Linked DNA regions of Homo sapiens. The protein of the gene in region 2 purifies or fractionates together with the protein of the main gene of each other region. This does not show direct contact. Each region holds a gene or a part of one and is shown on either strand. Other genes may lie near its edges.

What was found. The genes of interacting proteins can lie anywhere in the genome.
Region 1: the proteins of ZBP1 (region 2) and ORC3 purify together in Homo sapiens (affinity purification with mass spectrometry, with the first as the bait; one large-scale study listed by BioGRID). This does not show direct contact.
Region 3: the proteins of ZBP1 (region 2) and MLKL purify together in Homo sapiens (affinity purification with western blotting, with the first as the bait; one study listed by BioGRID). This does not show direct contact.
Region 4: the proteins of ZBP1 (region 2) and ZNF740 purify together in Homo sapiens (affinity purification with mass spectrometry; one large-scale study listed by BioGRID and IntAct). This does not show direct contact.

What each region holds. Positions count from the first base shown.
Region 1 is NC_000006.12:87,600,135-87,603,634, forward strand, and holds part of ORC3 (origin recognition complex subunit 3), read left to right. Parts: intron 1-1,649; coding exon 1,650-1,747; intron 1,748-3,249; coding exon 3,250-3,394; intron 3,395-3,500. UniProt on the Homo sapiens protein: Component of the origin recognition complex (ORC) that binds origins of replication. DNA-binding is ATP-dependent. The specific DNA sequences that define origins of replication have not been identified yet.
Region 2 is NC_000020.11:57,603,427-57,606,926, forward strand, and holds the end of ZBP1 (Z-DNA-binding protein 1), read right to left. Parts: exon of another isoform or gene 3,387-3,500; intron 2,076-3,386; exon of another isoform or gene 1,987-2,075; intron 1,344-1,986; coding exon 1,147-1,343; 3' UTR 426-1,146; downstream 1-425.
Region 3 is NC_000016.10:74,683,863-74,687,362, reverse strand, and holds part of MLKL (mixed lineage kinase domain-like protein), read left to right. Parts: intron 1-1,779; coding exon 1,780-1,877; intron 1,878-3,500. UniProt on the Homo sapiens protein: Pseudokinase that plays a key role in TNF-induced necroptosis, a programmed cell death process. Does not have protein kinase activity.
Region 4 is NC_000012.12:53,179,459-53,183,521, reverse strand, and holds the start of ZNF740 (zinc finger protein 740), read right to left. Parts: upstream 2,801-4,063; 5' UTR 2,685-2,800; exon of another isoform or gene 2,597-2,684; intron 2,297-2,596; exon of another isoform or gene 2,171-2,296; intron 1,846-2,170; 5' UTR 1,539-1,845; coding exon 1,530-1,538; intron 1-1,529. Other genes in the region: CSAD (cysteine sulfinic acid decarboxylase), read left to right, coding at 3,714-3,745. UniProt on the Homo sapiens protein: May be involved in transcriptional regulation.

The DNA of each region.
Region 1 (3,500 bases), on a different chromosome or scaffold from region 2:
ATGATTAGGAGAGAAGTTCCTTAACATGAAGTGAATTTATATTCCAAACTATCAGTTAACATTAAAACTTGGTGGTAGATTATTAGCAGCAGAAATTTAACGTGAACACTCCAGTTGTTACAATAAAATACGTAGCAGTAAACAACAAGAAATATGAGGGAAAGTAGAAAACTATAAGGAATCTAAAATATTTGATTAAAAAAAGAGACCTGTGATATTGGGGTTGGGGATTTTTTAACATATTAAAGATGGGATTTTTCCCCAAATCAGTCTATGGATTTGATTTTATCTAGTCAAATACCAGTACAACTAGTTTTGAGAAGTGACAGGATTACTGTAAAATTAATTTGAAGAAGTGGCTTAAATTTTTTTGAAAGAGAATAACAATGTTTGGGGGCAGTGGGAGGAAGACCTAAATGTATTTGATAAAATGTACAACATACAAAGCCATAATAATTAAAACAGTTCAAGACTGGTAGGAGAATAGGGTTGGATTCAGTAGAACAAAATAAAAAGTTCAAACATAGTTCAAAGTATATATAAGTATTTAGACTATAAGGGCATGTCAAATCAGCGGGAGAAGGATGGATTGTACAATAAAGGAGGGTTTTTCAAACCAAATGTCATAATTTATGTGTGAGTTATGAAATCAATTTAGTGGACTATGAGTATAAAACAGGAAAGAAAACATTTGCTATTACATAATAAGGGTGAGTGTTGTTTTTTGTGACTTTAGTTTTTGTTCATGTGTATATGTGTTAGGTTATGATATAAAGTGTATTCCTTAATGTGGATTATAGTTTGAAAAGTTTGAAAGCCAGTGCAATAAATGGTATTTTCACAAATAGCTAACCATTTGGAGAAAGCATTCAAAAAGGATACAAAAATATACAGACAGAATAAATGAAAGACTGGACTAAACTATGTCAGTGGAAAAATGTAAGAATAGTAGTAGTAAGTCATTCAATAGAGGAGAGTTCAAAGCAAATGTATGAAACAAAGTATACAAGGTTGTAGAATAACAGCAAATAATGAAAACATTATTAAATGTATATAACTCAAAAAAGCCACTTAATAAAAACTGTTAGAAATTAAAAAGCAAATGATAGAAATACAGTAGAAAGATTGACATTTTTAATCTTAAATATGCCATAAATATGGTAAAAATAAAAGATTATAAAAAATGAAATACAGAGGATATTGAATGTTACCTGTCCCCAAATATATGTTTTTGATGAATGTAAAAAAAATTAAGGCCAGGCAAGGTGGCTCACACTTGTAATCCCAGTACTTTGGGAGGCCAAGGTGGGCAGATCACTTGAGGTCAGGAGTTTGAGACCAGCCTGGCCAACATGGTGAAACCCCATCTCTACTAAAAATACAAAATTGAGCGGGCGTGGTGGCACGTGCCTGTAGTCACAGCCACTCGGGAGGCTGAGGCAGGAGAGAATCACTTGAACCTGGGAGGCGGAGATCGCACTGAGCCAACATCATGCCACTGCACTCCAGCCTGGGTGACAGAGTGAGACTCCATATCAAAAAAAAAAAAAATTTCACTTCTGTCACTTACTGTGTAACTTTGCACGTAAGATCTATAACTTATACTATTATATGAAAAAAGAAACTGACTTATTTCTTTCTGTTTTTAGAGGACTATTTTAACAAAGGGAAAAATGAGCCTGAGGACAGTAAGCTTCGATTCGAAACTTATCAGTTGATATGGCAGCAGATGAAATCTGAAAATGAGGTGAATACTTTTTTTAATAATTTTCTGTAACACCCTAAGTCTCATTTTTGTTGCATCTCATCTTCCTTTCCACCAGTTTACAAGAGTATTGATGAAATATAGGAAGTATTGGTCAAGCATAGCCTGTATATCCTTAAAAAAACAACCATAATCCAGCCTGGGCAACTTGGTGAAACCCTGTCTCTACAAAAGCTACAAAAACTAGCTGGGCATGGTGGTGTGCACTTGTAATTCCAGCTACTCAGGAGGCTAAGTTGGGAGGATAACTTGAGCCTGGGAGGTGGAGGTTGCAGTGAGCCGAGATAGTACCACGGCACTCCAGCCTGGGCAGCAGAGAGAGATCTTGTCTCAAAAACAAAAACAAAAAAAACTCATATTTCTTGTGAGTGGAACAGATGTTTATGATAGCTGTTAAGGCAAGGAGCTTTCAAATGGTGACGCTCTTAAATTATCCTTTCAGGTATACAACTGTGAAATCAAGCTGTTTCTAAACTCCTTCACTTTCTCATCTTTATATTCCAGCTCTGAAACATTTCTTCACTATAGCAAATTGGTAGCTCTAGGGCCAGCATTTTAGGCTGACAACTTTTTTTTTTTTTTTGGCCAACACAGTGTTGTAGTTTTTGGTTTAATTGCCTTTCGGAAGGTTATATACTTTCCAGTTTATTACTGCCGCCTACCAGTCCTTACTGATTTACACCTAGTGGTAATGAGCAAAGGCTCATTCACGTATTCCATGTGATCCTTCAAGGTATTTGAATTTGTGGTTTCCAGTTTAGGCCGTCTTCATTTCTGAATCTGGATTGTTATATCCTCCTGACTGGCATCCCTGACACCATTGGCCAAATTAGAAAAGACCCTTTTCAAGGCAAATGCAGCCCAATTCCAGGCAACCCCTCCAGCCCTGTTGCCAGATTAACCCTTCTTAACCCTGATCCAATTATGTCTTTACTTCACATCCCTTCAGTGGTGCTCCCCATAGGACAAAATCCAAACCCTTTAATGTCATATATCATATATATATTATATATTATATATATATATACACGTTTATATATATATACACATATATAATATATATATATATATACATATATATATACAATTTTTTTTTTTGAGACAAGGTCTTGCTCTGTCACCCAGGCTGGCGTGTAGTGGCATGATCATAGCTTACTGCAGCCTTGACCTCCCAGACTCAAGTGACCCTCTCACCTCAGCTTCCCTAGAAGCTGGGACCACAGATGTGCACCACTACACCCAGCTAATTTGTCTTTTATCTAAAAAGATGAGGTCTCACTATGCCGACCAGGCTTGAGAGGGAATTTTTAATGGGGGAACCCAGAGCACTAATTACTAGAGATTTAAGGAAAAAACATTTTTTAATTAGGTTCATCTTTTGATCATTTTACATCATTGAATCCATGACAATTTTCTTTCCACAACCAGGAAAGACATCAGATTATTATTTCTAATAATAATAAGTTTTTGTGTGTTCTTTGTAGCGACTACAAGAGGAATTAAATAAAAACTTGTTTGACAATCTGATTGAATTTCTGCAAAAATCACATTCTGGATTCCAGAAGAATTCAAGAGACTTGGGCGGTCAAATAAAACTCAGAGAAATTCCAACTGCTGCTCTTGTTCTTGGTATATATGCGTATGTTTGTTCATGCATGCATCTCTGTGTATTTCGTTTTTAAATTTTTTTTTATTGTTGAGAATAGTGGAAGGACCTGTTTTGATGAGCCTATTT
Region 2 (3,500 bases):
GCTGAGGAGAGAAGATTCTAGAAAGGTCGGGTGATAAGGAGGTCAGGTGGCCACAATGGGCCTTGAGGAAGTGAGACCTCAGGTGAGGAGAGAGTGGGGCAGTGTTTCAGTTGGCTCAGGCTGCTATAAAAAAATGCCTCACCCTGGGTAATTTATAAGCAACAGGAATTTATTGCTTACAGTTTCGGGGTCTGGGAAGGCCAAGATCAAGGTGCCAGCAGAGTCAGTGTCTGATGAGGGGTTGGTCTCGGCTTTAAGGATGGCACTTTGTTACTGCATCCTCACATGGCGGACAGGCAAGCGGGACTAACAGGCTCCCTCAAGCCCTTTCATGGCAGCGCTAATCCCACAATCCCACTCGCCCTCCTGACTCCATCCCCTCCAAAAGGCCCCATCTCTTCATACCACTGCACTGGGGATTATGGTTGGTTTATTTTTTATTTATGTATTTATTTTTTTGAGACGGAGTCTCGCTCTGTCGCCCAGCCTGGAGTGCAGTGGCGCGATCTCGGCTCACTGGAAGCTCCACCTCCCGGGTTCACACCATTCTCCTCCCTCAGCCTCCGGAGTAGCTGGGACTCCAGGTGCCCGCCACAACGCCCGGCTAATTTTTTGTATTTTTTTTTTTAGTAGAGACGGGGTTTCACCATGTTAGCCAGGACGGTCTGGATTTCCTGACCTATTGATCCGCCCGCCTCGGCCTCCCAAAGTGCTGGGATTACAGGCGTGAGCCACTGCACCCAGTTGGGATTATGTTTTGATATGAATTTTGTTGGGACTCAAACATTCAAACCACAGCAGGTAGCCATGATGGAAGGTAACTCCAGGCAGATGCCCCGAGCCCAGGAAAGAGTGGAGAGAGTCCCCTGGGCCTGGGGGACCGAGCCCCACTCCCATCTACCCACCTCCTCTTGGCACACCAAAGGTTCCCCAAGGCAACTCCCTGTCATCTACTCCTGGCCATCAAAAGACCTGGCCTGAACCCATCCCCATGCCAGGTCCATTCCCCCAAAACTGATTCATGCAGGTTATGTCTGGAAGCAAGCAGGTCAAACAAGACGCTAAGGAATGCAGAGAGCAGCAGGCTAGTCTCCCTAGCATGCGCCCACCCCCAGCCTGTGTCCAAGCCCCACGTGAGGCTGTGCACTAAATCCCACCTCCCCACCAGCTCCCCTCGTGTGAGGCTTCATCCACATAGTGGCTGCCTTCTGCAGCTTTGTGACTCCTGTTTCCAAGAGTCATAGTTTCCAGCTTGGGGGTGAGCTTCGAGTGGCTGGGAGTGATGGGCTGACCAATGTCTCGAGGAAAGTGACTTCTGGATTGTGTGTCTGCGGGACGACGACCTAGGGAAGAGAAGATGGGGGATCAGCTTCATGGGCACGTGGCCTGGGCATTTCCACAGGGACCCGCTCTTGGAAGGATTTCGAGCTCAGCTTGAGCCTTTGTTGTTACTGTCTTTAGATTTGTACAAAGTCTTGAACAGGGAGCCCCACCTTTTCACTTTGCACTGGGCCCCCAGATCATGTAGCCAGTCCTGTCCTAGTTTCACAGCAGTGAGATGGAGGAGCAGAAATAACACCAGAAAGCCCCCATCCCAGGGCTCTCCCAGTCCTCCCAGGGACCCCAAAAGACGGCTCTACATGCTCTGGCACTGACAGTCTCTGATTAGCAATTTCCTCAAACAAAACAAAACAAAACAAAACAAAACAAAACAAAAACCATTCCAGGCCTTACACATCTCAGGATAAGGTCCCGCCCGCCACTCAAGGAGGAAGTGACAGGCAGACCTCATTTTATCTCACTTTACCTTATTGTACTTTGGTTTATTACACTTCATAGATATTGCACTCATTTTTCACAAGTTGAAGGTTTGTGGCACCCTGTGTGAAGCGAGTCTATCAGTGCCAATTTTTCCAGCAGCATATGCTCACTTCCTGTCTCTGCGTCACATTTTGGTAATCCTCACAATATTTCACACTTTTTCATTTTGATTATATGTGTTATGGTGATCTGTGACCAGTGATCTTTGATGTTGCTATTATAATTGCTTTGCTTTGGGGTGCCACAAATATCACCTGTAGAAGATGACGAAGTTAATTAATAAATCTGTGTGCTCTAACCTGTCACTGATCAGCCATCTCCTCCTCTCTCTCCCTCTCCTCAGGCCTCCCTATTCCTTGAAGACACAACAATATTGAAATTAGGAAAATTCATAACCCTACAATGGGCCGGGCGCCGTGGGTCACACCTAGAATCCCAACACTTTGGGAGGCTGAGGTGGGCAGATCACCTGAGGTTGGGAGTTCAAGACCAGCCTGACCTACATGGAGAAACCCCATCTCTACTAAAAATACAAAGTTAGCCAGGCGTGGTGGTGCAGGTCTGTAATCACAGCGACCCAGGAGGCTGAAGCAAAAGAATCCCTTGAACCTGGGAGGTGGAGGTTGCAGTGAGCCAAGATTGTGCCATTGCACTCCAGCCTAGACAACGAGAGCAAAACTCCATCTCAAAAATAAATAAATAAATAAATAAATAACCCCAAACGGCCTCTATGTGCTAAAGTGAAAGGAAGAGTTGCACGTCTCTCACTTTAAATCAAAAGTGAGAAATGATTAAGCTTGGTGAGGGAGGCATGTCCAAAGCTAAGACAAGTTGAAAGCTAGGTCAAAAGTTAGCCAAATTGTGAAGGCAAAGGAAAGGGTCTTGAAGGATATTAAAAGTCTTACTTCAGCAAACACATGAGTGATGAGAAAGTGAACCAGCCTTGTGGCTAGTGTGGAGAAAGTTTTAGTGGTCTGGATAGAGGATCGAGCCAGCTACAACAATCTCTTAAACCTAAGCCTCGTCTAGGGCAAGGCCCTTGCTCTATTCAATTCTAAAGGCTGAGAGAGGTGAGGAAGCTGCAGAAGAATAGTTGGAAGTGAGCAGAGGTTGGTTCATGAGGTTTAAGGAAAGAAACCGTCCCCATAACATGCAAGTGTGAGGTGAAGCAGCAAGTGCTGATGGAGAAGCTGCAGCAGGTTACCCGGAAGCTCTAGCTAAGATCATTGATGAGCGTGACTACACAACAGAGCAGGTTCTTAATGTAGATGAAACAGCCTTCTATTGAAAAAAGATGTCATCTAGAACTTTCATAACTCGAAAGGAGATGTCAATGCCTGGCTTCAAAGCTTCAAAGGGGACAGGCTCTCTTGTTGGAGATTAATGTAGCTGGTGACTTTCAGCTGAAGCCTCTCCTCAATTACCATTTTGGAAATTCTAGGGCCCTTAAGAATGATGCTAAATCGACTCTGCCTATGTTCTATGAATGAAGCAACAAAGCTAGATGAGAGCACCTGTATATAGCTTGGTTTACTGAATATTTTAAGCCTAGCATTGAGACTTACTGCTTAGAAAACAAAATATTCCTTTGAACATTTCACTGCTCATCGTCCATACCACAGGATCTGAGTGTTCCGCATCCTGGATTGAGGGCCAAAAAAAAATTTTTTTTTTACTAC
Region 3 (3,500 bases), on a different chromosome or scaffold from region 2:
GAAAATGTTACCATCTTAATGGTATAAAGTCTTCCTATTCAAGAACATGGGACGTGTTTCCATTTATTTAGATCTTTTAAAATTTCTTGCTGGGTGCAGTGAGTTATGCCTATAATCCCAGCACTTTGGGAGGCTGAGGCAGGAGGATCACCTGAGGTCAGGAGTTCGAGACTAGTCTGGCCAACATGGTGAAACCCCGCCTCTACTATAAATACAAAAATTAGCCGGGCATGGTAGCAAGCGCCTGTAATCCCAGCTATTCGGGAGGCTGAGGCAGGAGAATTGCTTGAACCCAGGAGGCAGAGGTTGCAGTGAGCCGAGATCATGCCATTGCACTCAGCCTGGGCGACAAAAGTGAGGCTCCATCTCAAAAAACAAACAAACAAAACAAAACAAAATTCTTTCAACAATTTAGGTACAAAATTTTCAGGGTGAGACTTGCACTTCTTTTGTAAATTTATTCCTAAGTATTTTATTCTCTTTATGCTATTGGAAATGAAAATTTTTAATTTAATCTTTTGATTGTTAATTGCTAGCAGATAGAAATACAATTGATTTTTATAGGCTCTGAACCTGCCCTGATTCTCTGACAGACCTTGGACAAGCCTCCTTTGCCCTTTGAGTCTAAGACTCAGAGTGAATGAACAGATTGGATTGAGTTGGTGGTTCCAGTGATCCTCTTTAATAATTTACCTGCCTACATTTTTTAAGGCCCACGTTTTGGAAGGAATTTTGGTTATAAGATTTCACTTAATAAATATCTTTTTTTGTGTGTGTGTGGAGACGTAGTCTCGTTCTGTCACCCAGGCTGGAGTGCAATGGTGTGATCTCGGCTCACTGCAAGCTCCACCTCCTGGGTTCACGCCGTTCTCCTGCCTCAGCCTCCCAAGTAGCTGGGGCTACAGGCGCCCGCCACCACACCCAGCTAATTTTTTTGTATTTTTAGTAGAGACGGGGTTTCACCATGTTCGGCAGGATTGTCTCGAACTCCTGACCTTGTGATCCACCTGCCTCGGCCTCCCAAAGTGCTGGGATTACAGGCATGAGCCACCACGCCCGGCCTAGTATCATTATTTTTATTCATCAAAGACACACACCACGGGCTGGGCACGGTGACTCACACCTGAAATCCCAGCACTTTGGGAGGCGTAGGCAGGCAAATCACTTGAGGCCAGGAGTTTGACACCAGCCTGGCCAACATGGTGAAATCATGTCTCTGCAAAAAAAATACAAAAATTAGCCAAGCATGGTGGCACGCACCTGTAGTTCCAGCTACTCAGGTGGCTGAGGCATGAGAATTGCTTCAACCTGGGAGGTGGAGGCTGCAGTGAGCCAAGATCGCACCACTGCACTCCAGCCTGGGTGACAAAGCAAGACCCTGTCTCCAAAAAAAAAAAAAAGACACACACCACAATCTGTCAGAGTATATGCTAAACAACAGGTTACAGCCTAAAAACAGTAACAAATACTTGACTTTTTAGTTTGCCTAGTAAAGCCCTGTAGGTCATAAAAATACAATTCTATCAGACTATTTGAACTACTGAAAAGATATTAGCAAGTCCCATTAATATCTGACAGACCCCGAGGGACTAATTGTGCTGCCACAGGCACCTGAGGGGTTCCACATGTTGTTATCAGTAGCTGAGTTCATCCTGGCACCAGTTCTCACCCCAGATGCTGATACCCCCGCCCCCACATACACAGAGGGTCACCACACTGAATGTTCTCTAAGGAACCTTCCAGTTCTGAAATCCTGATTTCTCTCTTTAATCCTTATAGAATAGTGAGGCAGACTTTCAATAAGGAGATCAAAACCATGAAGAAATTCGAATCTCCCAACATCCTGCGTATATTTGGGATTTGCATTGATGAAACAGGTAAGGAATGCTTCTAGGATTGGTCAAGCTTTGGATGGCCTAGAACACACCTCCTGTGTTTTAATGTGTTGCATTTTTTTAAAGAACATCACAAAGGGTGGAATCCACAAAGTGTGATTATTATCAATGTTAATTTTTTTTTTTTCATCCCAAGATGCATGTTCTCATCTTCTTTCAGGAGGGCAGGGCTGAAGGCTGAGGGGTGGTTTGCACTAACATGGCCACATCTTCTCCTTTCAGCCCACTGGGAAATAAGGGGGTGCATGTTTAGATGCCAGCCTGGAAGAGGGGTGCATCTTGTTGCTCTAAAACATTATAAAGCTGCCAGGTGCAGTGGCTCACACCTGTAATCCCAGCACTTTGGTAAGCCGAGACAGGCAGGTCACTTGAGGTCAGGAGTTCAAGACCAGCCCAGCCAACATGGTGAAACCCCATCTCTACTAAAATACAAAAATTAGCTGGGTCTGGTGGCAGGCATCTGTAGTCCCAGCTACTCGGGAGGCTGAGGTGGGAGAATTGCTTGAACCTGGGAAGCGGAGGTTGCAGTGAGCTGAGGGTGCACCATTGCATTCCAGCCTGGGCAACAGAGCAAGACTCCGTCTCAAAAATAAAAATAAATTATAAAGCTGTCTGACCCAAAGAAGGAAAACACCCTTGGTCATCATTAGTATAGAACAAATCTAAAAGCAAAATTAACTTACCTGGCCAGGCGCTGTGGCTCAGCAGCACTTAGGGAGGCTGAGGTGGGTGGATCACAAGGTCAGGAGCTTGAGACCGTCCTGGCCAACATGATGAAACCCCGTCTCTACTAAAAATACAAAAAATTAGCCGGATGTGGTGGCACATGCCTCTAGTCCCAGCTACTCGGGAGGCTGAGGCAGGAGAATTGCTTGAACCTGGGAGGCGGAGTTTGCAGTGAGCCGAGATCATGCCACTGCACTCCAGCCTGGGTGACAGAGTGAGACTCTGTCTCAAACAAACAAAAAAAAAAACCATTACTTTACCCCTCTACCAAGAGCCTTATGTGACAGGCTCTTTTTTTTTTTTTTTTTTTCTTTTTTTCCCAATGTGACTGCATTTTCTCTCATGGAATGACCCCTCCTGCTGGTCATGTTTTGCTGCCGTCTTGCCTAGAGATTGGACAGAGCAACTCCTGTCTTATCCCCTTTGGAAGTTGCTCCACAGCCTCAGGCCAACTTGATTTCAGAGTGTGGAATCCCAATCTAAAGGGAAACGTAGGCCAGGCACGGTGGCTCACATCTGTAATCCCAGCACTTTGGGAGGCCAAGGTAGGTGGATCACCTGAGGTCAGGAGTTTGAGACCAGCCTGGCCAACATGATAAAACCCTGTCTCTACTAAAAATATAAAAATTAACTGGGCGTGGTGGTGGGTGCCTGTAGTCCCAGCTACTCGGGAGGCTGAGGCAGGAGAATTGCGTGAACCTGGGAGGCGGAGGTTGCAGTGAGCCAATATCATGCCACTGCACTCCAGCCTGGGTGACAGAGCTAGACTCTGTCTCAAAAAAATTAAAAAATAAAAAATAAAGACAAATGTTCAGCAACGTTTGTTCTCCTTGGGGACCGCTGAGGTGCCTGGCTCAGTCACATGTCAGTTTTGCAGCT
Region 4 (4,063 bases), on a different chromosome or scaffold from region 2:
AAGAAAATACTTTTCTTACTGAAAAAAAAAATTTTAAGAAATCGTTGGTCAGCAAACTCACAAATTTATGAAGAAATTCCTTTTAGATGATCAGTACGTTCTGGGACCCCTCCCTCCACCTTCTGGGACTTTGGAGTGAAAGATCCAGAGTTAAAATCTTAGCTCAGCTGTTTGCACTCTATAATCTTGGGCAAGTTATTCCACCTTTGCAAGCCTTAGTTTCCTTACATGAAAAATGCCTGTCATAATGCTTATCCTTACAGGGTTGATGAAAAGTAAACTAAGACGTAAAACGCTTAACAGTGTCTAGCACAAAGTTCAGTCCTTAGTGGAAGGCAGCATTCTCAGAAGACTGAATACAATGCTGAGAAGTGGGTTGCAAAACACAAAGGAAGAAGAAACTGACAGGCTCCTATTCTATATGGAAAGGAGGAAGCTGTGCATTCAGAAGCAGCTGGAGGAAAGCCAATTATACTACAATCAGACTGCCATCCTGGTGAGACTGGTAGGGAGGTTCCCTAGAAGCAAGCTGGGAGAAGCTCTGGAGATGTGTGCACATAGCTATTCTACTCAGATGACTACAACAGCCTATCTGCTCATTCTGTCTCTCCAGTCCATCCTCTACCTCCACAATAATGACCTTCTACATAACACTGATCTGATGCTACTCTGCTGCTTAACTTAGCGAGGCATAAAAGGCCTTTGGGTTACACTCTGCTTACTGCAGGGAACAACTTCCTCACCTATCACTGTCAATACTACCTCCATAACTATCCCCATTTAAATCCCTTACTCCGTAACTATCAAACAACCTGCAGTACTCGGAACCTCATCACATTTTCCCATGACTCTAAGCTCCTGCCCATGCTGTTCCTTTTGTCCAAACACCCTTCTCGCTTGTTTAGCAAAATCCTATGCATCTTTCAACCTCCATCTTCTTTTTCTATCCAAGCAGAAGTACTGTTCTCTCCTATGTACATACCCCTATTATTGCACATTCCTCAATCAACAGATTCAGAGTCTCTACTACTAGCCAGCCACTATACAAGGCATTGTGAATATAAAAATAAATGGCTTTCCATCCCTCTCCCGACCCCAACTAGCCTGGAAGCTCACTGGGGACAAGGACAATCGTATTCATCTTTGTATTCCCAGCACAATGCCTTGCATGCAACAGGAACTCAATAAATTCCTGTTGGAAAAAAACAAAAGAAGCATTCACCGTACTATTCACTCCCTTACACCCCTCAGCACTTAATGTACCAAATGTAAACTGAGTACACGTTGCTTTGCAAATGTCCCATCAGTGCCTGTGATGCAGTATAGCCTACCTCCTTCATTTGACTGGAAGCTCCCTGAAGGCAGGGGCTGTGGCCTGTCTCCTTTCCTTCCTCTAGATCTCCCCCTGGTGCTTAATACAGAGCTTGGATCACTGGGGTTGGTCAATATGTTGACTAAGGCAGCATTCAAGAGTGAAACTGCAAACAGGCTTCCCAGTTATCTTGGAGGAGGACTCTAGAGCTTTTTACCTGAGCCATGCTGATTTCTCACTTAAGGCAACCCAAAAGTTCAGGAGTTCCTAGGTCCACCTTTCCTTGAGACACTGTCGTTTTGAAGAACTGTCACCAAATCACGGTAGCGACTCCTTCGTGTCCCATCAGTCCTGTTGCCATATTGAACTTTGTCTTCAAATAGAACTTAGTGTCCTCCGAAGAAAAGATAGGTGTTCCAAGAATCCCTGGACTCTGCCTGGCTCCTGCCTATTGTCTGAAGAAAAAGAGAGTCTACCAGTCTTGGTTTTCCAGTTGAATTCTCTTGATGAAGCTCACGATCTGTTTCAGAAACCTGAAACCAGAAAGGAAGAGGGGGGCTGCTAAATGCAACATCTTCAGGCCATTACAACGTGCGATATGAATTTTTTTTTTGCTGGGCGCTCTCTGTGAAGCTCAGAACGAGGACATGAGTCAAGAAGAGTTTTCTTTCTAGGTCAATAGGAGGAACTGGTCTCCTGGGCAAGGAGTGGAAGCCAACAGGAGCAAAAGTAATTGGGGCCTCCTATGGAGGAACTCTGCCAAAAGGAAAGTTGCTTGGATTTGCCATCTCAGGAATGGAAGAAGGGGGCGGAGACCCTTTGGGGCTTTTGTGCCCAGTGGGCCGGCCCGAAAAGCTCGCACTTTACAGAGGCGGCAAGACTAGGGTGGAGGAAAGCTCAAGGGCCATCGCTGGGTGCTTCGGTGGCGGGCAGAAACGGGACTGGCAGTGCCCACACGTGTGCGTTCTCCCCGTCCGCCCGAAGGTAGGGAAACTTGCTGCGGAGGTGGAGGACAGGCAGGCGAAGCCCGGCGCGGCGTGTCGCCCGCCTCGCTCCGGCCAGCCAGCCTCTGCACCCGCTGCACCAACCGGGAGCAGAGCCGGAGAGTGCCGAGAAGCGCGCGAGATGCGTGCTCGCGCCCGCGTCCCCTCCGAGAGCCCTCTCCCGGGCCGGGGACGCGGCGGGACGCGCGGGCAGGGGGCGGTGTGCGCGCACGGCCTTTCCCCTCCCTCCCCCGGAGATCCCCCTCCCTTCGCCACGCGCCCCTCCTCCCCTCCCCTCCCCCTTCCCGCGCGGCACCCCACGGCTTGCGAGCTACTGAAGCGCTGCCGTCTGTACGGACGACGCTGCGGTCTTTGGGGCTTGCTCCTACCTGCCAGGCGCGGCCTCCCGCTGGCTCCCTGGCCGCGCGGCGCCTCCTCCAGGCCCCAGCACACCCTGCCAACCCCACCGCCGCGGCTGCCCCCACCGGGACCGAGGCAAGTTTACAAACACCAACCCCGGCCCGTTTCCCCGGAAGCACTTCCCCCTCCCCCTCGTCCTCTCCGCCGAGCGGCTGCATCCACTTCCGGGCTCGGCAGCTAGACTAGCGGGGGCAGCCTCAGAGCGGGTGAGCTTGGGGACGCACGGAGAGGTGCAGCTGGGTGAGTGGGCGGCGCCGTGCGCCGAGGGCATGGAGGAGGGAGCGCTGAGGCCGGCGCGTGCGCCGTGGCCGGGGCGCGCCCCGGCCGCCATCGAGACTGAGGGCAGGACCCTCGGCCCTTCGATGATTGTACGCTGGGTGCTCGATGGGAGGAGGGTTTGCTGGGTGAGCTGGTTCAGACTCCTTGAAAAATCATCGTCACTCTTTCTTCCTCGCGGACGTCCTGCCCATCGCTCTGAGCCGGCGCCCCAAGTAGAGCCAGAGTAGTTCGTACCCAGCCTTTTCACGTAACTCGGCCGAGGTGGTTCTTCTCCGAATTTTTTCCGTCAGGCCCAGATTAGCAGATTTTGGGGTCAGCTGGGAGAGGCGTTAACTTTTCTTCGCACACTCTTGCTTTGTGCGCTCAACCACAGTCTGAATTCTCGCAGAGGCGTTCCTTGAGTAGCCCTTGGCCACACTGCTCACCTCCCTGCAGAAGTCAAAGCCCCAGCCCTCCTCTGCGAATCCCGAGGCCAGCCTGGTTGGTTACCTTCTCCCCTTCGCCCTTTACTCCAGGCCGTCCAGCATCAAACACTAGCCTCCACACGTGGAAAAGACCCTGACTCCCACAGTAGACTAGTCTTATGGGAGTCCTGGCTCTTGGGCCAGGCTGCATTAGGAAAATGGAAACCAGACTGTCTTCAAATTCTTCTGCCTAGCCTTAGCCATTAGAGAGAGGTCCTGCTAAAGATGGACTGCAAATGCGCTTGATGGAAGGAGATGTCAATTCCACTGAAGTCCTCATTTCTGCTGTAGGTGATATTATGTCGTGACTTTAGGAGAAGTAATGGTGATACCAAAAGAAAAAAAAAACTGTATGATGAAAAAAAGACAAGGATTCTCAACTTTTTTTTTTTTGTAGACAGATTTCATTTCCCTGAGCCACTCCATGATTTGGGCCATTGAAAGTACGTTTTTTGTGTTTTAGGATCATTCTAAAATAGAGACAAAATGGAGAAAGAGAGAGATAAAGAAACATCACCAGGAATAAGTCTTTTAAATCTTTTTTGAAAATTAGCTCCTACTTATTTTACAAATCGACACAACGCAAAAGTATAAAAGACACAAAA